Homo sapiens: one gene and its partner. Each later gene encodes a partner of the first gene's protein in a complex. Each region holds a gene or a part of one and is shown in the gene's direction. Other genes may lie near its edges.

Region 1 (12,865 bases):
TTACTTGCCTAAGACTTGGGTCTGTGACATCAGAAACAACAGCAGAGAGAAAGATGATGTCCATACTTTTGAAGCCCAGAAGAACTCTCAGTCCTTGTTCATTTTTATCTTGTTATAATTTGCAATAGTAAGAGATGGGGAGAGTTTGTCATCTGTTTTGGAGTTACAAGTCTCTGTTTCATATGAACTTGTGCTGTGGAATTATACCATTTGACCTGGTATTTGACTGAGTTCTATTTGCTGGAATGTTGCACTTTTCCCCTTCTAGAATTGATCATATACAAATGCATGTAATGTTTGGCTAGTTATTTTCTCATATTTTAGGAAAGCAAAACTTGGCACACAGCAATTTGTTTTGATAATCTCTCTATTTACGTTAGGATTAGGGTTGCTTATGGGGCTGCTGATTTTGTTGAACTATTATCATCATGTTAGATGATCATTTATGTTTCCTTCCAGAAAATTCTAATGACATTGCTCATTGGATGTGATTACTCATTCTCCTGAGAGTGTTAAATGGGTGTGAGCAGAGCTGCCATACAAGGAAGACTGTATTTACGTGGAGTATCTTGTAGGTGGGGTTGGGAAATTATTTCCCATGCAATGCCACATGGTTACACAAACACAGCACTCTTTCTTGAAGTCCAAAGGAGAATCCTCAAAGAATCTCTGAAGAAAATTTGACTCCACTGATTACCATCTGTTGGTGACACTCTGCTTCAATTATTCTTTGTTCTGAACTCCAAGGACTGTTTTAAGTTCTACAATGTCTGGCAGATTGAGGAACAAAGATAAGGGAGAACAAGCAGAAACTGGTCAGAGGTAAGAAAATTTATTTACAATTTTTGGCAAATCACCTGAAAAAGGCAGAAGAAGATCTTTTGCTGTGCTGTATTATTTTTGAGAATTTTACTGTATTTTCTTACTAAAAGTTTAACAGCAAGATATACAAATATCATCATCGACCCATTGAATTTTAGAAATATTTGGATATGTTCAGATTTGGTAGTAAAGGTGTCAAAATTTATCTGAGTTCTTTTGTCCACAAACTGGAAGACAACATTTTTATTAAACTGGATTTTAAATCAACATAGAATGCTAACTCTATGAGCTTTGAGGTGTGAAACAACTCAGAAAGGCAAACTTTCAGGGAAGATATTGATCCCGAATCCCCACCTCCATCTTCTCTTTATTTTAAAAGTATTTCACATGTCTTGTTGAGGGAGATTTTACCTTCAGATTGAAATTCATGATATTGCTGCTAAGTATAAAAAGGACAACATGCCAGGAGGATGTTTTCCTTAACAACACTATCTCAGTCAATATTAAAAGGCAGGTCCTGATAAAATAATTTAAAGATAGTTTCCTAAGAGCTTCAATAAATTCAGTTTGTTAAATACTTTATAACTTTTCTTCTATAATAAATGAAGGTGGTAATACTATTAATAAATTTCACCTAAGAATAGTAATAAGAGGTTGTGCAGAGTTAGTCTAGGAAATGCCTGACTTGGATACATGTTAGCTACAACTCATGAGATGCTTGCCTCAAAAAATTCATTTCTAAGTTAATTGTTTGGAACTCAAAATCTTCATATACATTGGTGAGGCTTATGAGTCTAGTCGAGTTAATTTATACTGAACCTGAAGCATTATTAATAGTATTATTATTTTTAAAAATACCATTCTAGAGTTTACAATAGTGTTTATTATTTCGCATTCAGAAGGGAAAGGAGCTGTCAACTTTAGTAGTCCTGGGTATCAGTAACTCTTCACTTTTGTTTAAGGCATATTACTACAAGGATTCAATGAATAAGTGGTTGGGGTTGGGAAGCCAGGAGTTACCTTTCTAATTGTCATAGTACACTGGAAATCAGGGCAGTTGGCTCACTAAAAGCCCTGAACTTGGGTTTCTCTACACCATTAATATATAGGGATATATAAGTTGGGGACTTTTTGGACCTGGTTTGAGGAAAGTGGACCTTATTAGGTGGATTAAAAAGTTGCAATTAGTCCATTTTACATGACACTATAGTCAGAACCAAGTAATTATCCATTATAGTCTGATCAAAACTTGCATGAAAATCAACTAAAAATTCAGAATTAAGTATTTTTAAAAGCTTGCAATGCATTGAAGAGCAGGCAATCAAGTGAGAATACTTAGGGGTGGAGGATGGGGGACAAATAAAAGTAGCTACAAGAGCCACCTCTCTCTGTAATCCCAGCACTTTGGGAGGCCGAGGTGGGTGGATCACGAGGTCAAGAGATGGAGACCGTCCTGACCAACATGGTGAAACCCTGCCTCTACTAAAAATACAAAAATTAGCTAGGCGTGATGGCAGGTGCCTGTAGTTCCAGCTACTCGGGAGGCTGAGGCAGGAGAATTGCTTGAACCCAGGAGGTGGAGGTTGCAGTGAGCCAAGATCACGCCACTGCACTCCAGCCTGGCGACAGAGCGAGACTCCATCTCAAAAAAAAAAAAAAAAAGAAAAGCCACCTTTCATCTTCATCTTTAGGGTTTTTCCTAAGCTGGATGAACTGGAAGACCATGAACTGTTATCATGGTCTTATGGGTCTTCAGACCCTTCCTAATGTGGGAAATCCAACAGGATACTCTTCATAAAGCTGATACACCCCAAAGGTATTCAAGGACAATTGTCTCAAACAATGGAGCATAGTTAAGGGGAAAAAAGCTTCCCAGAGGATTCATAGCTACAAACCAGGTCTCACATGAATGGTCTGAAGAATTTCAAGCTGAGAATTTAGTGTTTATGTTTCTGAATTGCTAGTGATCCCAAGCATCTACCAGCAGTAAATTAATATCTTCTCCAGAGAACTCATTTTCATTTCAGCTGTCACTCAATTTCTATATATAAAGTTCTAAGGATCACATAACATAAAAAGAAATCACATACATAGAAGAAATCAAGAGACCATAAGTATGAACAAGTAGAAAAAAGATCAGTTAGTAGAAGCAGACCCACAAATGCTTCAGATATTGGAATTTTTAGAAATAGAATTTAAAGTATATATATTAAATATTTTTAATAAATTAAAGAGATGCTGAAAATATGAGTTAAGAGAATACAGATTTGGAAAATAACCAAACAGAACTTTAGAAATAAAAATAATATAAATTAAAAACTAAATGGGTGACTTTGACAGAAAATGAGACAAAGCTGAAGAAAGAATTAGTGAACAGAATATTTTTGAAATTTTCCAGAATACAGCGTAGACAGATAAAGAGAGACATACTATAAAAGAGATGTTTGACAAACATGGAGGGTAGAATAACACATGTGTTATCAGAGTCCCAGAAGGAATGGAAAGAAAGGAGTCCAGAATTTTCCAGAACTGATGAAAGTCACCAATCCAGAGTCAAGAAAATTAAAGAAACCAAGAAACATGGATGAATAAAAATCTACACCTAGATACTTCACAGTGAAACTATAGAAAACTAAAGACAAAAATGAAACATCATAAATGCAGTCAGAGAGAAAAAACAGATGACATTTTAAGATTACTTTCAAAGTTCCAATTGTTATTAGGGAACTTAGAAGACAGTGTAATGATATTGATAACATGCAGAAAGAAATAATAGTAAACTTTGAATTCTTCATCAGTGAAAATATTTTTCAAGAGTGAGGGATAAATAAATACATTCCAACTCAAACAAAAAGGGAAAGAATTTTAGGCAGAAGGAAAGTGATCCTACACAGAAGATCTAAAATGAAAATACAAAAGAATGGTAAAGTTCTGAGTAAATCTAAACAAACATGGACTGTATAAAACAACATTCATAATGCATTTTTGGGGGGATTTTAGTTTTGAGGGGGTTTTAGAGGTTCTTGTATTGTTTGAGAGAGGGTGGATATCCTTGTGAACTCTGGCTTTAATCAGTTAAAATGTACCTATTAAAATTTCTAGGATAACTCCTAAATGAATAGAAACAGAGTAAATAACTTCCAAACTAGAAGAGGTGGGGGCAGAAATGAAAGCATAAATAGTAATCCTAAAGAATGCAAAAGTGAAAGAAAAAAACAGATCAGAAGAAACAAACGGGAAGTACAAAATTAGATGGCAGAAATAGATTTAAATTTATCAGCATTTTTCTCTCTTTTTTTTTTTTAATTTTTTTTAGACAGTGTCTCACTCTGTCAACCAGGCTGCAATGCAGCGGCATGATCTTGGCTCACTGCAACCTCTGCCTCCCAGGTTCAAGTGATTCTGAAGCCTCAGCCTCCTTATTATCTGGGACTACAGGCTTGCACCACCCACCACACCCAGCTAATTTTTGTATTTTTAGCAGACAGGGTTTCACCAAGTTGGCCAGGCTGGTCTTGAACTCCTGGCCTCAACTAATCTACCCGCCTTAGCCTCCCAAAGTGATGGGATGACAGGCATGAGCCACTGCGCCCAGCCTAAATTTATCAACAGTTTTAATACATGCAAATTGTCTAGGGGTTTGATGTAAGAGCTAAAGATGATCAGACTAGATTAAAAATCAAGACTAAAAATTTTAGATAAATTTGAAACATGATGGTTTAGAAAGTTTGAATGTAAAAGGATGAAAAGAGATATCCTAACATCAGACAAATACTATTCAGAAGAAAACTGTTTAGAATCTAAGGCAAAAGTACGATTGGAGGTAAAGAAAGTAACAACATAATGATGAATGGTTGTATTTATTAGGTAGATATAGAAATTATAAACTGATGTGTATATTATTACACAGCCCCAAACTGTGTAAGGTAGAACCTGAAAGAACTATAGGCTGAAATAGAAAAATCTACCATCATGTTGGGATATTTAAACTCATCTCTCCCATTAATTGAATTATGTCAAGCAGATGCAAATTCAGTAATAGAAGATGTCAACAACACAATCATCGTATTTGATCATGGACATATATTTAGAACACTGTACCCCAAAGCTGCAGAATATATATTCTTTACAAACCACATACAACATTTAAGTCTTGAAACATTTAAAAAATTAACTAAATTAATTAATTAATAAGAAATTAATTAATAAATAAAGACCATGTTCTTTGACAACAATACAGACTATGTTCTTTGACTGGTATGGTCCTGAAAACTGTTAATATTAATTGTCGAGTAGGAAATATCATTGCTGAAATATGATCTTGGGAAGATTTAAGACTAATTTGAAGGTTTGCCCTTTGTACACTTCTCTATCAGTCATATGGGAAGTTCTATATGAAATGAGTATTACTAAAGTTATACCATCGATTTCATTAAAGCTATTACCAAGGTAAGTGTATGATATTTGTTTTCTAATTTTTTAACACCTCATGCATGTAGATCATGTACACCTATGTTCCTATCCCTTTTATTTCAGTAATAACAGAACAGATAAATCTCTTCATTATGGTCAGCCTAAAAGCTCACTTAAAAAGATTTGCTTTGGGATGCGAATGTGTAGTATTTCCCTCGATGTACTTAACATAAATGGAATGAAGAACAATTTTATACTGTTCAAGGGTATGACTGTCATTTAAAATAAAATCCCAACAATGGATGAGGAAAACAATTGTATTATTATCTCCTCACACCAAATTAAAAAGTCCTCAATATGGTCACCCCAAGTAGGGTTCCTTTCTTTGGAAATAATTAATTATAATGAAAGGAGAAGTTTGAGAAATTCAGTAACAGTTGGGGCAGAAGTGGCTTTTAGCTTACGAATTTTTTTTTTCAAGGCTTTGGAGTATGGTCACTTATGCAGAAAAATCTTTATTTGGGAAAAGAAAACTTATGTAGTATAGTTTGCCTAATTGTGAAACTGAAATTCACAGAATAATTTCTCAAAAGATAATACAAATTTGTAGCACCTGTTTTACTTGAACATCACACTGCTCATGTGATGTACAAGTAATAATTCCCATTTTACAAATGTAGGAACCGAGAAACTGAAGTGTCTCACCCCGAGTCAAGCTATGACAACACTTTATGATAAACACATTTTTTTTTTGTTTGTTTGTTTCCCAGTTATGGCCCGTCCTCATTTTTTACTAACAGGCCCATGGCTATACAATATTTCTGATCCTGTTGACCAAGTAGTACCCAATTTTGGCAAGAAAGTTTAAGGTTATATAACTGAGTGCAACTTCAGGTTCTCTGACTCTTGAGTTTTTTAATTCTTAAGACTCCTTTTCTGACTTTTATGTCTTATGACTCACACTACATTCATACCACATTTGGTTTCCTCTCATCATCTTAACTTCTGCATGAATAAAGTCTGAAGTAACCACCTTTTGGAAGAAACACTGTGGCTATGTGTCAAGGGTGGCAGTGTTAGCTGGGAGAAGGCCTTTCCCAGAAGATCTCTGTGTAAGAGCCTGGCCTTCCACAGTCATTTGAATGTCCATCATAAGACTTTTCTACCTGTCTTCTCAGTAGATCCTAAATATGAGACAGCAGAGGAGGGAGACAGGCAATATGAGGTAGAAGTAAATAATCAGCATCAGATAGACCTGGTGTGAACTCCAGCTTTGCCATTACTCCCTGGTTTCTTCATCTGTAAAATGCTGATGAAAGTATCTATCACACACCTATGACAAGTACTGGGTGAGAGTGCACATAACCTGCTTCACATGTGCTTTAGGGCTGTGTAAATCAGTCCCTCCCACGCTTATTCAGTGGTGCCCTCTCTGAACTCGCCTAAACTGCCAGACTATGAGGCCTGCGACTATGTACATGTGTTCAAAAGTTAGTCCTTGGTTATCACTGCAGTCTGTGGTATAGGAATGTCTGCCTCCCACATGCGCAGACAAGTGGGGCACTACCATTTGGCTACTTGACAGGGCTATTTAGCAGGTGCACATGTCTGAACATTCCTGAATCAGGAGGGGGTAGCTCTGGATTTCAGAGAGCTGTAAGCAGGCCACAGCTGGAGTGACGCAAGAGCCAGGGGCATCAACTTGAGCTCTGAATTTGTAGTATGAAATGAAAGGAACCCAAGTCCGTGTGTATGTGTGTGGAAAACACTGCAGGTCGAGGTACTTTTCCAGGTACTTCGCCCTTTGTGGGGTTGCAGCCCCGACGCCCTGGAATCTGGACTGGACCCAGAAAGGAAGCCGGTTTGGTTCATGCTGAGGACACAGGGGGCACCTTGCCTTTCTGGCTAGGTGGCAAAGCGGTACGTGGGCCATCCCAGCAGGCACTAGCGCTCCCCCTGCACCCTCTGGCCGCCCGGGCGCGGGGACCTGGCCCCCGCCTCCTCCACAGTCTCCGACTTGCGAGCCGCACGGCCCAGGTGAAGCCGCTGGGCGCGTCCCCGCGCGCCCCTTCCCCCTCCCGGCGACTTCCTGATTTGCAAGAAGGTGCAGGAGCCGCAGCGGGCGGCCCCGGTCGCAGGAACTGAGAGGCCTCAGCTTTGGTGGCGGCTACCGGCGGAGACGGGGGCGGCGGCCACGCCACCGCTGCTGTCACAGAAAGGCTCTGGTGGGTGGGGTGGGAGGCGGGGAAGTGCCGGGGGCGCAGCCGACATGGGCCCGCCGCCACGGCTGCTGTGAGCAGCCTCTTTCCCTGTGTGGCCGCCGGCGTGGGCGGGGACGGCGCGACCCTCGCGCGGCCGGGCTGCGGGCTTCCAGGCCAGCGCGCGGGGGCCGGACGGACAGCCCCACACCGACATGTAACCATGGACTGCAGGACCAAGTGAGTGGGGGGGCCCGGGCGCGTCGGGGGCGGGCGTCCCTCGGCGGCCCCTCCCAGGCCAGCTCGGCTCCTCCGCGCCTCCGCGCTCAACCGGCTCCCCGGGCGGCCGAGGTTGGCCGGGCGGGCTGGGGGTGCGGTCCGGCCCCCAAGCCTCTGGCCGGCCGGCGGGACGGCGCTAGGCCGCAAAGCCTGCCCGCCCTGCGTCCCCGGCCCTCCGTGGTTGGCGCGGCTCCTCCCGGAGAGGCCACTAGCGCCTTGTCGACGCCCGCCTTTCGGGGGACAGGGGAGGCCGGGCGGCCCCTGACACCGCCGCTGAGGGGTTCTCGTGCTTCCCCCGAGTGTGTCAGATGTGACTCTCCTGGGGCTGCCTGTGTGCGTGTGGTGTCCGGGAGGGAGTCAGCGTTGAGGTTAAGAGGTTATTATTCCGAGTGCTCTCTGAGCATTAAATATAACCGGTGTTTTCTTAAGTCCGTTTGTTACTTTTGTCTTGGATGTTTTCTTATGATTCTGCTTATAAAATTAGATTGGTCTCTGGTGTTTCTTTATGCAGCAACTGTAGATGCATGGTTCTTGCAAAACGGTATCCAATTAGAGGGTACTTTTATGTGTGTGCTAAAGTATTTATCAACGACTACTTTGCTCAGGAGATTAGGTAAAAAGCAATTTTAATAACGGTGGTGATTTTGTTTCTAGGTATCTTAGAGGCATGAGTTTTATATTTTTCTTCTGAAACTTAACTTTGGAAAGAATTCCTTTTTACTTCGCTTACCCACCCTTTACTATCTCCTTCTCAAAAAGTTTAAAATAATGCCATGTATATTTGTATTATTGTGAAAGGCCGTTTGAATTTCACAGAAGTAAAACTGAGTCAATATTTAACTTTTACACCTAAGAGAAATTCTAAAGAATATTAGGGAAAGAGGGAAATTATGTAATAGAATTATTTTCTTCAGTGTGTTTGACATCATGGTGGGCAGGGTAAGTGAGTAAAAATAGTATGCTTCTTGACATTAATTGTTTTAAGAGGGAGGAAGTCATCTGAGCCCAGATTATTCCCATTGAAACAAGTTAATAGCGGAAAGGCTAAAAAAATGTATATTTGCATGTTAATTTATATGTCTTGTCACTTCCTATGTTTCCAGATTCATATCTTATAAGAAAAGCTTCCAAAAAAAGAAATGCTTTTTTTTAAAGTCAGAGCTGGCATTCGTTTCTTGAAGGAAGTACATATTAAATACAGCCAATGTACAAAGGCACTAAGGTCTTGTTAGCAGGAATAACTGAGATATTAACACATTGGCCGTTGTGGTAACAGACTTAATCTTTTACCTTATGATGGAACGAGAGATTTAAACAGCAATGTTATGAAGAAAAAGTGTCTCAGTATATTTCAGTTCACTTTTTGAAATTTAACCAATGTTGCTTTGAAATTTTGCAAATATGGCAAGTTAGTAAAAAAGTCAATAACTTCTGAATTAAGCAAAGTAAACTTACAGTTTCTAGTGGGAAAATCTAACATGGAAGCAGATGGCTGGTTTCTCCAAAGATAATGGATAAAAAGAAGGCTTTTTATGTTGCTAGCCTTAGAGCTATGAATAGTTTGCTACTTTAAATATGCATAAGTACAGTAAATACATTTTAAGAAAAGTATATGCAACGTATCACATTCATGGAGCATTATCAATGTTTTATGGTGATCTAGAACTTGGCAGGTGGAACCATGTATTCATCATTTACACTTATATTGCAAGTCCTTTGGAGACAGCCTGAGAACCTGTGTCAAACTCTGTTGGCAGGGTATAATGACACTTAGGGACACTCTGGCTTTTAAATTTGATCCAATAAGATAAAACCAATACTTTGCATTTTTGTAGCACTTAGTACTTAATGAAGTACTTGCACATATGTTATTTGATTTATAATCCTCACTATTATTCTGTGAAGTGGACAAGGCACCTCATAGGTAAGGGAGAACAGTCTCAGCGTTTAAATGCTTTGCCCCAAGTTTCAGAATTCCTAAGTCTCAGCTCTTTTAAGTTGCTCAATTGAGAAAACAGTTTCATTGTTATTTCTACTATACTGTAGTAATACAGTCACGTGAAATGTATTGAGACAAAAACAAGATTAGTTTTAGAATTAAGAAAATACAAGTTTCATGGAGATGTTTATTTGTCATAGGAAATTAATTTAAACTTTTTCCTTTTAGGGCAAATCCAGACAGAACCTTTGACTTGGTGTTGAAAGTGAAATGTCATGCCTCTGAAAATGAAGGTATGTGTCTTCTGTGTTCTGTTATTTGACAAGGTCTCTTTTTTTTGGGACAAGATCTCATTCTGTTCCTCAGGCTGTGCAGTGGCATGATCAGGGCTCACCACAACCTCTCCTTCCCGGGTTCAGGTGATCCTCCCACCTCAGCCTCCCGAGTAGCTGGAGCTACCAATGCACACCACCATGCTCAGCTAATTTTTGTATATTTTTTTGTGGAGACAGGGTTCACCACGTTGCCCAGGCTGGTCTTGAACTCCTGGGCTCAAGTGATCCACCCACCTTGCCCTCCCAAATTGTTGGGATTACAGGCGTGAGCCACTGTGCCTGGCCTGTTCTGTTAATTCTTAAAATAATTGATTGAATCTGTCAAAGCAAGTGTTAATATTGTGGACTGCTGGAACATGGTAGTAATAGGAAAATAATACTACTAAATGTGTATTCTGCATTGAGTGTCTCAAGTTGCTGGTAATAAAATAGGTGTTAAGTCTTTGCCCTGGGATTGTAAAAATCATGAATGTTATCAGTGCAGCTTGAATTTCAGGTGTGTTGTTAAGCCCATATAACTTACAACTCAGCTTCACCATTCGTTGGTAAAGTTATCATTAGTTTTGGTGAAAGGGCGAATCTTTTCATTTTCTTTCATTTATGTTTGGAAATTTAGTGTCTTTTTTTAAACATTAGTGCACATTCTCCTGCTAGTACCAATGGAAACTACACCACTTCCCTTCTGATGTTTCCAGAACGCAGAATGCAGACTGAGTAGCCCCTTCTGTTGGATTTACTCCAATAGCACAGCACTTTTGCAGGGAGGTAAACGATAGTGTGAAATTACTTGGAAGGGTTTCAGCTGTCAGTTCCGTACAATTTCCTGAAAAGATGAGAGCATAATACTTTAATGTCATGATTTTCATCATTTCCCTCCACTTTTGTCATATTGTGTATTGTGCATATGTGTGGTAGGCGGCAGGGTTAGCAGACAAGAATAAGGAATTCTTTTCTTGCCTATTTTCTTTTAATGTGTTCTTGCATGGTATGTCTTTCTAGATACTTAAAGTATATGTCTTTACTTGCTGTGTGCTTAGACCCTGGATAGCATGATGATTAAGCATAGGGGTTTCGTGGAGACTGATTGGCCATCCTAAAGCCTTGGAGGAAAGTCTGCTGACAATTTTAGCTTCAGAAACTATCCAGCAATTACCTACTCTTAAGTAATTTGGAGCTGCACACCTTAAAATAGAGAAGCCCAACCCAGTTGTGGTGAAATGGGCATGGCTAATTTTAGTATGAAGTCACATATTGTTGGCTCCACCAGCCCTACTACTGTACTCCTGGTCTATCTGAACTGCAGCTGTGGTCAGGTTTGTCTATTGGCAAGGAGTGATCCTAGGTTGTAGGGAGCCTTTTCTAGTTGATGAAGTTATCTTTTATTGTCCTGTATGTAGTAAAGTTTGTCCATTTGCATTATTTTGAGCCCCAACCGGGTCCTCTTTGAAGAATGGATATATTAGGTAGAATGGATACTCAAATGGATACATTATGTTTTCAGCTCCAATTTAATTCTATTCTATAGTGGTTTATGATATAAGTTAATCTAAAAAATATCTACCACAACATTACCGAAGGTGCGTGAAGTAACGCTCATCTGATATTGCTTGTAAAGGCGTGGCACGGTGGCTCACGCCTATAATCCCAGCACTTTTGGAGGCCGAGGTGGACAGATCATCTGAGGCCAGGAGTTCGAGACCAGCCTGACCAATATGGTGAAACCCCATCTCTACTAAAAATACCAAAATTATGCAGGCATGGTGGCCTATGCCTGTGATCCCAGCTACTGGGGAGGCTGAGGCACGAGAATCAGTTGAACTGGGGTTGTGGAGGTTGCAGTGCGCCGAGATAGCACCACCACACTCCAGCCTTGGTGACCAAGTGAGACTCTGTCTCAAAAAAAAAAAAAAATCTATATAGATATATAGATATATTTATAGATACATATATTTATAGATATATATTTATAGATATATATTTATATATATTTATAGATATATATTTACATATATATTTATATATATATTTATAGATATATATTTATATATTTATAGATATATATTTATATATATTTATAGATATATATATTTATATATATTTATAGATATATATTTATATATTTATAGATATATATTTATAGATATGTATATTTATAGATATATATTTATAGATATATATTTATAGATATATATTTTTATATATATTTATAGATATATATACACACACACACACACAACAGGCTAATTTCACTTGGAAAATATGGATTCTCTAATTTTAAATGTGTATTAAAGTGATCTTGTTAAAAGATCAATTTGCCTTATATAACACCCAATCTATGCATGTGTCAGAGAGATTGTGGTCTTCTTATAAAGGCTTTTGAGTGGTTTACTCCCTTCTTCCTCTTTTTGCTCTTTTCCACTTTTCATGAGCTAGTTATTCCAGTTTGTATCTTCTACTTCTGCCCTGCTTTAATATTACACCTTGTCTTTTTGCTGTTGTTATTTAAATCACTACTTTTTAGAAACATCTTCATTTGTATTTTAACAGTTTATATCTAGCCTGGTAAAGTTGTAAATATGATAAATGGTTAAAGTAAATAATGTTGGCTTCTTTGTAGGTTGCAAATAATCCATTCTATATGGCTAAATGGCAGAAAATTCTAAAGATATTTTAAAAAACTAAACTCAGCCATGTAAGCAGCAGTAACCTTTCTTCTTTTATTATGACTTAAATAGTATGAATATGGCTAATATTTTAGGATCTAACAAGTAATAACTATAATCAGTAACTATAATAAATAACAAATGATAAATTAGTAGCTATAAATAATAAAATCAATAACTATAAGAGGGCTATAAAAGTAAATTTTTTTGCCAAAT
Region 2 (11,849 bases), on another chromosome or scaffold:
ACCTTGGCCTCCCAAAGTGCTGGGATTACACGTGTGAGCCATCGTGCCCAGCCTGGCTAATTTTTTAAATTTTTTTTGTAGAGATGAGGGTTTCACTATGTTGCCCAGGCTGGTCTTGAACTCCTGGCCTTGAGCCATCCTCCCTCCTCAGCCTTCCGAAGTGCTGGGATTACAGGTGTTTGTCACTGTGCCCAGCCGGGATCCTTTTATATTTTGAAATTTTTTTGAGGACACCAAAGAGCTCTTGTGTATACCTATCTTACCTATTGATATTTAGCATCTTAGGAGTCAAAACCAGGCTAGGCACAGTGGCTCATGCCTGTAATCCCAACACTTTGGGAGGCTGAGGTGGGAGGATGGCTTGAGGCCAGGAGTTCAAGACCAGCTTGGGCAACATAGTGAGACTGTTGTCTCTACAAAAAATTTAAAAATTAAAAAAAAAAAAAATAGCAGCCAGACGCAGTGGCTCACACCTGTAATCCCAGCACTTTCAGAGGCTGAGGTGGGTAGATCACCTGAGGTCAGGAGTTTGAGACCAGCCTGACCAACATGGCAAAACCCCGTCTCTACTTAAACAACATAAATATTAGCTGGGCATGGTGGCATATACCTGTAATCCCAGCTACTCGGGAGGCTGAGGCAGGAGAATTACTTGAACCCAGGAGGTGGAGGATGCAGTGAGCCGAGATCATGCCACAGCACTCCAGCTCCCACCTGAGTGACAGAGCAAGACTCTGTCTCAAAAGAAAAAAAAAAAGCCAGGCATAGTGGTGTGGTGGTGTGTACACCTGCAGTCCCAGCTACTCAGGAAGCTGAGGTGGGAGGTTCACTTCAGTCCAGGAGGTCAAGGCTGCAGTGAGCCATGATCGTACCACTGCACTCCCAGCTTGGGCAAGAGAGAGACTCAGTCTCAAAAACAAACAACAACAACAAAGCAAAACTGTTCAAGTGGCATTGTTCCACATTTTTTTAGGTTTCTAATGTCTGGATTCGCATGTCAGCTCTGCATTTGGTCTGTTGTATCACATGTCATGTAGGCTCTGGCAAACACTGTACAGTCATAAGCAAATGAAAGTGAAAAAGGCAAATCACATCTTAGTATTGTGAACATGTTTTGACTCTGAAGATCCTTTGAAAAGGTCTTAGGGAGCCCTGCGGGTCCTCAGACTACACTTGCAAAACCACTGATTTAATAATATAAAGGTTGAGTGAGAAAATTCCTGCTAAACGGTTTGGAGTCAGGGGAAGAAGCTGACCCTGAGTTAGACCCCAAGTTTGGCCCACACCCCAAAAAGTGAACTCAAGAGAGGGTTCAACTAATTGTATCTGACATTCTGTCCAACTCTCACACTGTGTGTGTGGCTTCACTTTAATTCAACAGGTATCAAGCACCTACCAGGCACTGGGTCTCCAGAGGATACAGATAAAGAGATGGTCCCTGGAATCATGGAACTTACATTCACTTGATTTCTGGGGGCTACATCAGGGCAGGGCAAGGCCCACTGCCAAGTCTCTTGGTGTGGCATCAGGCTTGCAGGTGTGGGAGAAAGGGCCCGTTTCCACTTCCATCAGAGGGAGACACCAGGCATCATATCATATCCTCTCTTCCTTCCCTCTTGGACCAGTATGCTGAGTGGTCCCCATCTTGCTCCTAATTTAAAGTCCCTGTCGGTCAGTTTACCTGCCTTCTCTGAGTTCTGATTCACCACCCACTGCTTCCTTCCTGGATGATCACAGCACACGTTCCCTCCCTTGCTACCTAGCACTCAGCAGCTTTGAAGTCCATGTTGCTGTCTGAAATAATGGATTTCACAGGTCCCTCCAACCTCCACTGCACTGATCTTCATCCCTGACACTGCTACCCTTGAGGGCCTGAGGTCCCCCTCTCCTTTACCCACTTAGCCTTCTGGTTGGTGACACTTTACTTCCCAAAGCTCTTTGAAGCGCCCTTAGCTCATCTTCCCTCCAAATATTCACTCCTTATTATTTCCTGGCTGCTAATCCTCTGCTTCCACTATCCTGAAAAATACTTCATGAGCCCCACTGCTCTCACCACCAAGCATTGTTTCTCTTGTCATCCACTGCCAAACTTCCTGCCACCTCTGTGGCTCCACTGCCTGCTTCTGCAAACCTCAGCGTGCTCCCTGCTTTACTTTTCTCCTTGGACATACTTGGTGCCTGTATTCTCTATCAGAATATAAGCTCTATGAAAGCTGGGATTTTAAAATTTTACTTACTGCTGAATCCTCAGCTCGTAGATCAATGTCTGGCATAGTAGGCCCTCAAGTATTTGTTGAATGAGTGAATGACTTGTTCCCCACTAAACTGTAAACTCCGTGAGGACAGGAGCTTTGTTTTGTTCATGTTCTAGCCTCTGTGCCCACTACAGTGCCTAACACCTAGTAACTGTGCAAATTTTTTTTTTTTTTTTTTTTTGAGATGGAGTCTCGCTCTGTCACCCAGGCTGGAGTGCAATGATGCGATCTTGGCTCACTGCAACCTCCACCTCCCAGGTTCAAGTGATTCTCCTGCCTCAGCCTCCCGAGTAGCTGGGACTACGGGCGTGTGCCACCACACCCAGCTAATTCTTTTGTATTTTTAGTAGAGATGGGGTTTCACCATGTTAGCCAGGATGGTCTTGATCTTCTGACCTCATGATCCACCCGCCTCGGCCTCCCAAAGTGCTGGGATTACAGGCGTGAGCCACTGCACCCGGCCACTTAATATTTACTGAATTAAGGATGAATCCAGTTACCAGGTAAATTACGTGATTTTTTTTTTTGGAAGCTGCTTTGTCTAGTTTATAAGTTTGCTTATTGTCTTTTGCATCTGTCCCTGCTGTTACCTTACACCCAGGCTTCAGCAATAACCTTTAAAGCTCTGCAGCTGAAATCCATCCTGCACCCTGCCAGATTACTTCACTAAAATATTTTGAGATTGCCTCTTTGCTCAAAAACTTTCAATGCCTCCTCATCGTATTAATAGTTTCTAATGTGCAAACAGGTGGTGTTGCAAAAGTTCATCTGTAAGTTAGCTGTTCAGAGCAGTGGAACAAAGTTTCCCATTACTGGACACACTGATCCTTTAGGTCACACAAGTTTACATATGTATACAGTGAGAAGGAGAAAGAAAGCTTAACATAACTCATCACTGAACTGTAGTTTAAATAAATGTCTAACAATGTTTCCAGAAGAAAATGTGCTGATTCATTTTGAGATGCCAGGCACATACCCTGGCCTGCAGGGAATTCCCCTCCAAGCCAAATGATGATTCTCATAGACTGTGACAGGGACTGTCTAAATAGACACTCAAAGCTCTCCTATTCCAGTGCCATCATGACATCTTTATGATAAAATCTTCTCCCCATCATTCTAACTAAAAGCTATAGCTTTCCTCCTCTGAAGTCTAGACTGCATATCTGACAGCTTTTCTATCTACTGTATTGTCTTATACTTTCAATTTCCTCATGAGTATGTCTTAACTCTTGATGAGGCTGTGAACTGGTGAGAAAAGGCTCTGTTCCTTTTTTTTTTTTTTTTTTTTTAAGACGGAGTCTTGCTCTGTCGCCTAGGCTGGAGTGCAGTGGTGCAATCTCGGCAACCTCTGCCACCCGGGTTCAAGCGATTCTCCTGCCTTAGCCTCCCGAGTAGCTGGGATTACCGGCGCCTGCCATCGTGCCCGGCTAATTTTTTTTATTTTTAGTAGAGATGGGGTTTCACCATCTTGGCCAGGCTGGTCTTGAACTCCTGACCTCGTGATCCTCCCGCCTCAGCCTCCCAAAGTGCTGGGATTATGGGTGTGAGCCACAGCGCCCGGCCTAAGGCTCTCTTCTTATAACCTCTGCAATCCGTGGCACATAAACACTCATTAAATAGTTACCAAAGAAATGAAGGAATTTATGCCGATTGCTTTCCAGATGACACATGCAGGCAAAGTCAGGAATCTGGTTTTAATGGCCAATTTGGATTTATTTCCCAAAAATATCCTACAGCCTTATTATCAGGAAGCTGCCTTGAAAATGTGTGCTAGAGTCTACAGTAGGAAATGGCTCAAAGTATGAATCAGTGCAAAATGACCTTGAGTAACATTGGTTACAGTCTGTCACATGCCTACATGTGCCAGGTAATTTACAAACATAACTCTAAAACAACCATTCTGTGAGGAAACGGGGGCTTTGAGATAGTGTGATGTGACTTACCTAAGATCACAAAGCTTTTAAGGGATGGAGGCCAGGATTCCAAAGCTAGCATTGGAACGAAAGTCTTCCCGACACCAGCCCAGGTTGTGAAGATGAGCTAGGAGGACCTACTGCCTCGCTGGCTGGTTAGGGCTGGGCGTGCCTCCCTGGTGGAAGGAAGGTACATACCTTCCTTCTCCCCCTCTATTTCCTAAAACTGCTGAGTCAGAGGATGGCCCTAACCTTCCCGACCAAGGGGGACTTTCTATCGGGAGCACATGAGCAGCTCTTCTCCCTAGCCAGTACCTTCAGATTCCAAGCTCATGTTATTTCGATATCACCACACTGATTCTCAGCTCCCGGAAAAACAACTCAAGGCTTGAGTCAGACACTCCATGTGTTGTTCAATGATCCCGCCTGCAACAATGTTTATTATAACCAAAAAATATAAACAGCATGAATGTCTATTAATAGCGGAGTGGTTAAATAATAGTACATCCGATGGTTATCGGATGGAGTACCATACCACGCAGATGTTAAATGATAAAAGTGTACTGTTAAATAGAAAAAGCAAGGTATGTACATATATGTTTGTACAGGCAAAGGAAATTCACTGGGGGGCACTTATTCATTCAACAAATATGTGTTAAGCATTTTAAGGTTACCTGTGAAACTAACAGGGGTTACCTGTGAGGAGTGCTTCAGAAGGAAAAATAGTAACTTGTACTTTTCAGTAAACTTCTGCACATAATTTTAAGGACGAACATTGTTTTTTTTTTTTGAGACGGAGTTTCGCTCTTGTTGCCCAGAATGGAGTGCAATGGCGAGATCTCAGCTCACTGCAACCTCCGCCTCCCGGGTTCAAGCGATTCTCCCGCCTCAGCCTCCCGGCATTGCTTTTTATAAAGTCAAAAGAAAAGGAAGTTTGATAAAACAAGTAGAACTATCCGATAAATACTCGCCTGGAAAGGGACAGGATTATAAGAAACAGGTAATAAGGAGCTTAAAACCCTCTGCAGTTCTGCAGTGAGGATGGTCGTGGGGGCATACAACTTTCCGTTTCAGGTCAGTTTAGGTAGGGCAGGTGGGAACTCACTCTAAAACGAGAAACCGGGGCTGATGACAAAATGCACACGTTTAGCTTCTGGCGGCCCAGGTCTTCCTAGCCGCAGATTCTGAGACGTGTATCTGCAGGTGGTGTGAAATTGAAGCCGGGGGAGCGGTTGCTTTCGGTCTCCGAGGTGCGCCTTGCACACTGGGTCATTCAGCTCCCAGGCTCGGCTCGGAGCTGGACCACTCCCTCCCCTCCACCAAAGAGGCAATGTGGGCTCCAAGAGGTCACAGCGCTGGGATGGGATTTCGACCCCGCGCTGCCCTCAAAGGCCACCTCCTCGCAGCTCTGCTCCCGCCGGCAGCTCCCGTTCTGTCCAACTCGGAAGCCGCCCGCCGCCCTCGGCGTCCACTCCACAGGCCCGGGGCCGGGGCCAGCTCCGCGGGGGAGGGGTCGGTGCGGAAGGGGCGGGGTACCGGGCCTTCCCCGCGCGACTCTGCCTTCTACGGCCCCGGCCCCTGCCTCTGGAAACCCGGAGCTCGTGCGAGCCCCGCCCCACGGTCGCGGCGTGCCTGTCATTTCCTCTCCGCAGGGCGTGCGGGTCTCGAAGATGAGGGAGCAACAACGTCCACGACCGGGCTTCTCCGGCACCTTGGGCTTCTTTCCGCTGGGACTCGACAGCGGCTCGGCTCCGCAAGCTCTCAGCGCCCAGGGTGGCGGCGACGACGCTCCCCGAGGAGACGCGAGGAAGACGGGCCCGCGCTTGCTGGGACTCCGTCAGGGCGCGTGCGCGACCCGGGCGCGGCCGGCTCAGGCTGCGGCTGCGCAAGGCGGTGCCAGACGCTGCGCCTGCGCAGTGGTGGGGCGGGGCGGGAAGGAGGGAGGCGGTGGTAGCGGCGGCGGCTGCTGAGGAGGAGGAGGGGGAGCGGAGGGAGGTGTTTCTGTCAGTTCCGGCTGTTTGTTCGGGAAGTGGATCCGCCGCTGCCGGAGCAGCCCGAAGGGAGCTGCGGATCGCGAGGCCAGTACCGACCCCGCCCGCCCGCGCGCACCGCCCCCGCCCGCCATGGCCCGGGACTACGACCACCTCTTCAAGCTGCTCATCATCGGCGACAGCGGTGAGGGCCGCAGCGGCCGGAGGCGGCGCGGGCCCTGCCGGGCGCGGCCCGCGGGGGCCTCGGGGCGGCAGGCGGGCGGGGAGGTGCCGGCCCGTGCGGGGCGGGCGGGCGGGGCAGCCCGGCGGTCTGGGCCCCAGGGGTGCGCCGAGGGGCTCCGGACCGCGCCGAGGGGAGGTTGGGGCGCGGGGCGGAGGGGCCAAGCGCGCCGGGTCCAGTCATCGCGCCTGTTCCTGCCTCACGTGTGACCTTGGTCAAGTCGCGCGATCTCTGGAGTTGGAGAGACGTGGGTTCGAGTCTCAGGACTACCACCTGCCTCGCGCTGACCTTGGGCAAGTTGCTTCGCCGTCCTGAGCCTCAGTTCCCTCATCTGAGAAGTGGGGATGTGCCTTGCTGGGTGGTGTGAGGATTCGATGGGATAAAGTAGGAAAAGTGCGTAGCGCCCTACCCGGTAAAGTAAGCTCGAAGTAAATGTTCACTATTGTCATTATCATCAGTATCCTTTATAAGCGTCAGTTTCTTCCCATCTAAAATGAGGACGTTCTCAGAACCTGCCTCATGGGATTGCCGTGAGGTTTAAATGAGGTAAGTCGGATAAAGGGCTTTGCACAGGGTCTGGCATATTCCTGCTGAATTATTATATCCCTGCGTGGTTCAGTTTCCTCATCTGTAAGATGGAATGATAGTTGGATCTGCCTTATGGGGTTGATGTGAGTATTAAGTGAGATTCTGCAGTGTTGCTCACAGCTCCTGGCACATAGTGAGTTGTCACTGTTTGCTGTTACACTACTATATACAGAGGGGTCCTGGGGATGGGACAGCCAAAATTATAAAAGTGCTTTGGCCACACACACACACTGCTTGAGGGCTCCTAGCTCTGATCACTGCTCTAGCTCCAGTGCCTAGAACAGTGCCTGGCACCCAGTACATGCTTAAGACATATTTGCAGAAGGAATTAATGAATATTAAGTGTCCTTCGAAAAGGTAGACTGGTTTCTGGGAAAAGGTGGAGGGTTTTAGAGCTGTTTGGAGTGTGGCAGGTGAGCAGGTTTATGGAGTGACCAAGAGGTCAGGAAGGCAGGCCCCAGAAGGTTTATGGGAGCGAAACTGAGGTGCTGGGGTTATATGATGTTCATGAAAGAGTCTTGGGAGCATGCTCAGTTTGTAGACCAGACCTGAGCTGAGTGTGGGGAGGGATGTCTTATGATTGGAGGCAGAGGCCAGGCTGGTGGTAGAGCCCATGGACTGTTAAGGAAAGGGGATCAAATCAAGTGAGCGGTATGACTTGGGATGTAGGAGTGTTGGGTAGCGATGTCAGAGCTAGGTCAGGGAAGTGGGTGGTTTTGGCCTCCCTTTTAAAGCTGGATGGAGATGTGGTTGGTGGTTTGGATCAGGTGAAGGATGGCTGAGGTTTCCGTGGTTGCTGGAGGAGGGGAGAGGTAAGGGGGAAAGCTGGGGGCTAACCAGGGAGATGGAAGAGTAACTGAGGTTGGGGAAGGAGGTAGAAAGGTGGAGTACTGACTGGTTATGGTTTGAATGAAGGGAAACCAGGCAAGCTCTGGAGTGTTCTCTTGGAGATGGCCTTTGGTATTCTTCAGGGTCTTGAGGCTTCTTCCTTTACATGATTTCCTTGCAGCCCTGGCCTGGGTTCTGAGGGACTGGCACTGGGGCCATTTCTCTCTTTTTGGAGTGACAGCCCGCCGTGGTCAGGAGCCTTTATCCCTCTGCAAGACATCTGGACCTCTGCGTTGATATCCAACAGTGAAAAGCCTAAACTCAGCAGGAAGATGCAGCTTGTTGGCTCTTCTCCTCTGTAAAGCCCAGGGGATGGGTTTGGCCCGCTTTCTCACAGTACATTTTGTGTGATGAATTGATTTTTCTCTCCGAAGTCAGGTGTGGGAGAAGACTCATTGGGTCGAGATTTATGTGGTCTAGCTCCTAGGTCAGCCATGTAGGCGTAGGTTGTGCAGAGGAGATGGATGCTGTGCTCTTTGATTTCTCCCGACATTGAGATCCTCAAAGCTGGGAGATGGTAGCCATGGAAGTCCAGACTAAGCTTTGGCAGCTGAGCCCAGAGACTGACATTACACACTCCCCTGAACTGGGCTCCTTGTGTGAATGCCTCCTTAAGATATGTTGAACGATTTCACAGACGCTTATTCTCACCCGCCCCCTGTGTGATTTGTCAAATAAGGAAACTAAGGCTTAAGGCCGGGCGCGGTGGCTCACGCCTGTAATCCCATCACTTTGGGAGGCCAAGGCGGGCAGATCACCTGAAGACAGGAGTTTGAGACCAACTTGGGCAACATGATGAAACCTCGTCTCTACTAAAAATACAAAAGTAGCCGGGCATGGTGGAATGTGCCTGTAATCCCAGCTACTTGGGAGACTGAGGCAGGAGAATCGCTTGAACCTGGTAGGCGGAAGTTGCAGTGAACCAAGATCGCACTATTGCACTCCAGCCTGGGCGACAAGAATGAAACTCCGTCTTAAAAAAAAGGAAACTGAGGCTCAGAGGAGGTGACTTACTTGCCCCAAATCACATAGCTCAGCAGGGGCAAAGCCGGGAGCCACTGCATCTCAGTGCTAATACGTGTGCGAGCAGCTCATGTCAGGGCTGGCAAACAATAGGCCCTCCATGAATGCTGGTTTCTTTCTTCATAAATCTAGAGTTCTGCCCACTCTGCACATTGTGGATGCTTCTGCAATGGATTCCCTCAATCTCTGCATCCCTTCGTTATGCCGGAGGTTCTATATTTTCTTTTTTTCCTTTTTTTTTTTTTTGAGACGGAGTCTCGCTCTGTCGCCCAGGCTGGAGTGCAGTGGCGCGATCTCGGCTCACTGCCGGCTCCACCTCCCCGGTTCACGCCATTCTCCTGCCTCAGCCTCCCGAGTAGGTGGGACTACAGGTGCCCACCACCATGCCCGGCTAATCTTTTGTATTTTTAGTAGAGACAGGGTTTCACCATTTTAGCCAGTATGGTCTCTATCTCCTGACCTCGTGATCCGCCCGCCTCGGCCTCCCAAAGTGCTGGGATTACAGGCGTGAGCCACCGCGCCCGGCCAGTTCTGTATTTTCTATACTTTCCCTTATACTCTCTGACACTGGCTTTGATTTGTAACAGCATGTCGTCTGCATCCCTCAGGCCAGCCATCCTCATTTGGAGATGGAGTTAGCCCTTCACTTGACAGATGAGTAAATTGAGGCTCAGAGAGGGGGCGTGACTTGTGTGAGGTTATACAGTGAGGTGGTGGCTGAGGCAGGTTTAAAATTGAGAACATGGCTGGGGGCAGTAGTTTGTCCTAGTGCTTTGGGAGGATGAGGCGGGAGGAACACTTGAACTCGAGACCATAGTGAGAGCAACATAGTGATAGCGAGACCCCATCTCTTAAAAAAAAAAAAAAAAAAAGGCCGGGCACAGTGGCTCACACCTGTAATCCCAGCACTTTGGGAGGCCGAGGTGGGCAGATCACCTGAGGTCAGGAATTCGAGACCAGCCTGGCCAACATGGTGAAACCCTGTCCCTACTTAAAACACAAAAAATTAGTTGGGTGTGGTGGTACGCACCTGTAATCCCAGCTACTCGGGAGGCTGAGGCAGGAGAATCATTTGAACCCAGGAGGCGGATGTTGCAGTGAGCCGAGATCGTGCCACTGTACTCCAGCCTGGGGGACAAGAGCGAGACTTCATCTCAAAAAAAAAAAAAAAATCAGTTGGGCGTGGTGGTGCACATCTATAGTCCCAGCTATGTGGGAGGCTGAGACAGGAAGATTGTTTTAACCCAGGAGTTCAAAGTTACAGGGAGTTAGGATCACACAACTGCACTCCAGCCTGGGTGACAGAATGAGACACTGTCTCAAAAAAAAAAAAAGGTCCAGGCACGGTAGCTCACACCTGTAATCCCAGCACTTTGGGAGGCCGAGGTGGAGGATCACTTGAGCCCAAGAGTTTGAGACCAGCCTGGGCAACATAGGGAGGCCCTGTCTCAACAAAAAGAAGAAAATTAGCAGGGCATGGTGGTGCACGCCTGTGGTCTCAGCTACTTGGGAGGCTGAGGTGGGAGGATCTCTTGAGTCTGGGAGGTTGAGACTGCAATGAGCTATGATCACGCTGCTGCACTTTAGCCTGAGCAACAGAGCAAGATCCTGTTTCAAAAAAAAAAAAAAATATCGAGAACAGTTCACTGAAAGGTCAGGGCTCTTCAAGAGGTTGAACTGAAGCAGAGAGGAGTGAGGGGGCCATAGCCCAGGCAGGAGCAGGAGGAAGGGAAGACATGTGTGTGGCTTGCGTGGTGAGGACCAGATACAGCAGCCAGGGGTAAAAGGCCGGGAGCAGTAGCTCACTCCTATAATCCCAGCACTTTGGGAGGCCGAGGCAGGCGGATCACTTGAGGTCAGGAGCTCGAGACCAGCTTGGCCAATGTGGTGAAACCCTGTCCCTACAAACAATACAAAAAATTAGCTGGGCGTGATGGCGGGCGCCTGTAATCCCAGCTACTCCGGAGGCTGAGGCAAGAGAATCGCTTGAATCTGGGAGGTGGAGGTTGCAGCCAAGATCGCGCCACCGTACTCCAGCCTGGGCGACAGAGTGAGACTCCATTTAAAAAAAAAAAAAAAAGAATGACAGGCTGGACTGGTTGGGGTCATGCTGATGTGCCCTTGGGCAGCCTCGGGGGTGGCTGTGGTGAAGGTTGGTGGGTGCCCTCTGCTCCTGCCCTGACACTGATGGTGTGGGGTAATGGCTGCAGCTTGTGTTTCCGAGGAAGCCTCTTCCAGGGATATTTAGGAGGTAGTGTTTCTTGGGGTGGGTTTCTGTTCCTCTCAAAGGGAGAGCAGTGTCAGAGGTTGGTGTCAGGTCCAAAGCAGCAGATAATGTGGTGATGGTTGTGGTCTTTCTGCAGCCTAGTGGCTTTTTTTTTTTGAGATGGAGTCTCGCTCTGTCGCCCAGGCTGGAGTGCAGTGACACGATCTCAGTTCGCTGCAACCTCCGCCTCCTGGGTTCAGGCGATTCTCCTGCCTCAGCCTCCCGAGTAGCTGGGATTACAGGCACGCACCACCACGCCCGGCTAATTTTTGTATTTTTACTAGAGGTGGGGTGTTCATCATGTTGGCCAGGATGGTCTCGATCTCTTGACCTCGTGATCTGCCCACCTCGGCCTCCCAAAGTGCTGGGATTACGGGTGTGAGCCACTGCGCCTGGCCAGCCTAGTGGCTTTTAACTGCTCTGCCGAGACGCCTGGGGACAGTATGGGGACCTGGAGAGGCCAAGCTGGAGGGGATACTGCTGTGTCATTGCAGAGAGAGCTGTTTTACACATGGGATTTGGGTAAAGCTTGGATGAAGAAAAGGATTCTGCTGCCCTGCAGAAGTTTGGAAACCCCTGCTTAGGCGCCTGCTGTGCTGCAGTGGGAGCGCTGGATAGCAGAGCTGTCAGTGTGGCGGGCGTTCGTTTAGGCAGAAATTCATTAAGCAGTGTTTGGTTGGCACCTACTAAGTGCTGGGCCTGGCT

Evidence for each region.
Region 2: the proteins of DENND1B (region 1) and RAB35 are in contact, whole or in part, in a crystal structure (PDB 3TW8), measured with the Homo sapiens proteins. Residues at the interface, in NP_001182144.1 of Homo sapiens: Met1 (codon at 7,657), Arg4 (codon at 7,666), Glu43, Ser47, Phe51, Val72, Leu73, Thr74, Asp75, Ile76, Glu77, Ser78, His211, Glu212, Arg213, Arg214, Gln242, His243, Ile244, Ile246, Leu249, His252, Leu253, Asp255, Tyr256, Cys258, Ala259, Pro260, Met261, Pro262; in NP_006852.1 of Homo sapiens: Lys10 (codon at 6,319), Leu12 (codon at 6,325), Ser17 (codon at 6,340), Ser36, Tyr37, Ile38, Thr39, Thr40, Ile41, Gly42, Val43, Asp44, Phe45, Gln60, Trp62, Thr64, Ala65, Gly66, Arg69, Phe70, Arg71, Thr72, Ile73, Thr74, Ser75, Thr76, Tyr77, Arg79, Gly80, Thr81.

The regions. Positions count from the first base shown.
Region 1 is NC_000001.11:197,769,947-197,782,811, reverse strand, and holds the start of DENND1B (DENN domain-containing protein 1B), read left to right. Parts: upstream 1-7,331; 5' UTR 7,332-7,656; coding exon 7,657-7,673; intron 7,674-7,733; exon of another isoform or gene 7,734-8,164; coding exon of another isoform or gene 8,165-8,325; intron 8,326-9,879; coding exon 9,880-9,944; intron 9,945-12,865. UniProt on the Homo sapiens protein: Guanine nucleotide exchange factor (GEF) for RAB35 that acts as a regulator of T-cell receptor (TCR) internalization in TH2 cells. Acts by promoting the exchange of GDP to GTP, converting inactive GDP-bound RAB35 into its active GTP-bound form.
Region 2 is NC_000012.12:120,111,093-120,122,941, reverse strand, and holds the start of RAB35 (ras-related protein Rab-35), read left to right. Parts: upstream 1-6,188; 5' UTR 6,189-6,291; coding exon 6,292-6,343; intron 6,344-11,849. UniProt on the Homo sapiens protein: The small GTPases Rab are key regulators of intracellular membrane trafficking, from the formation of transport vesicles to their fusion with membranes.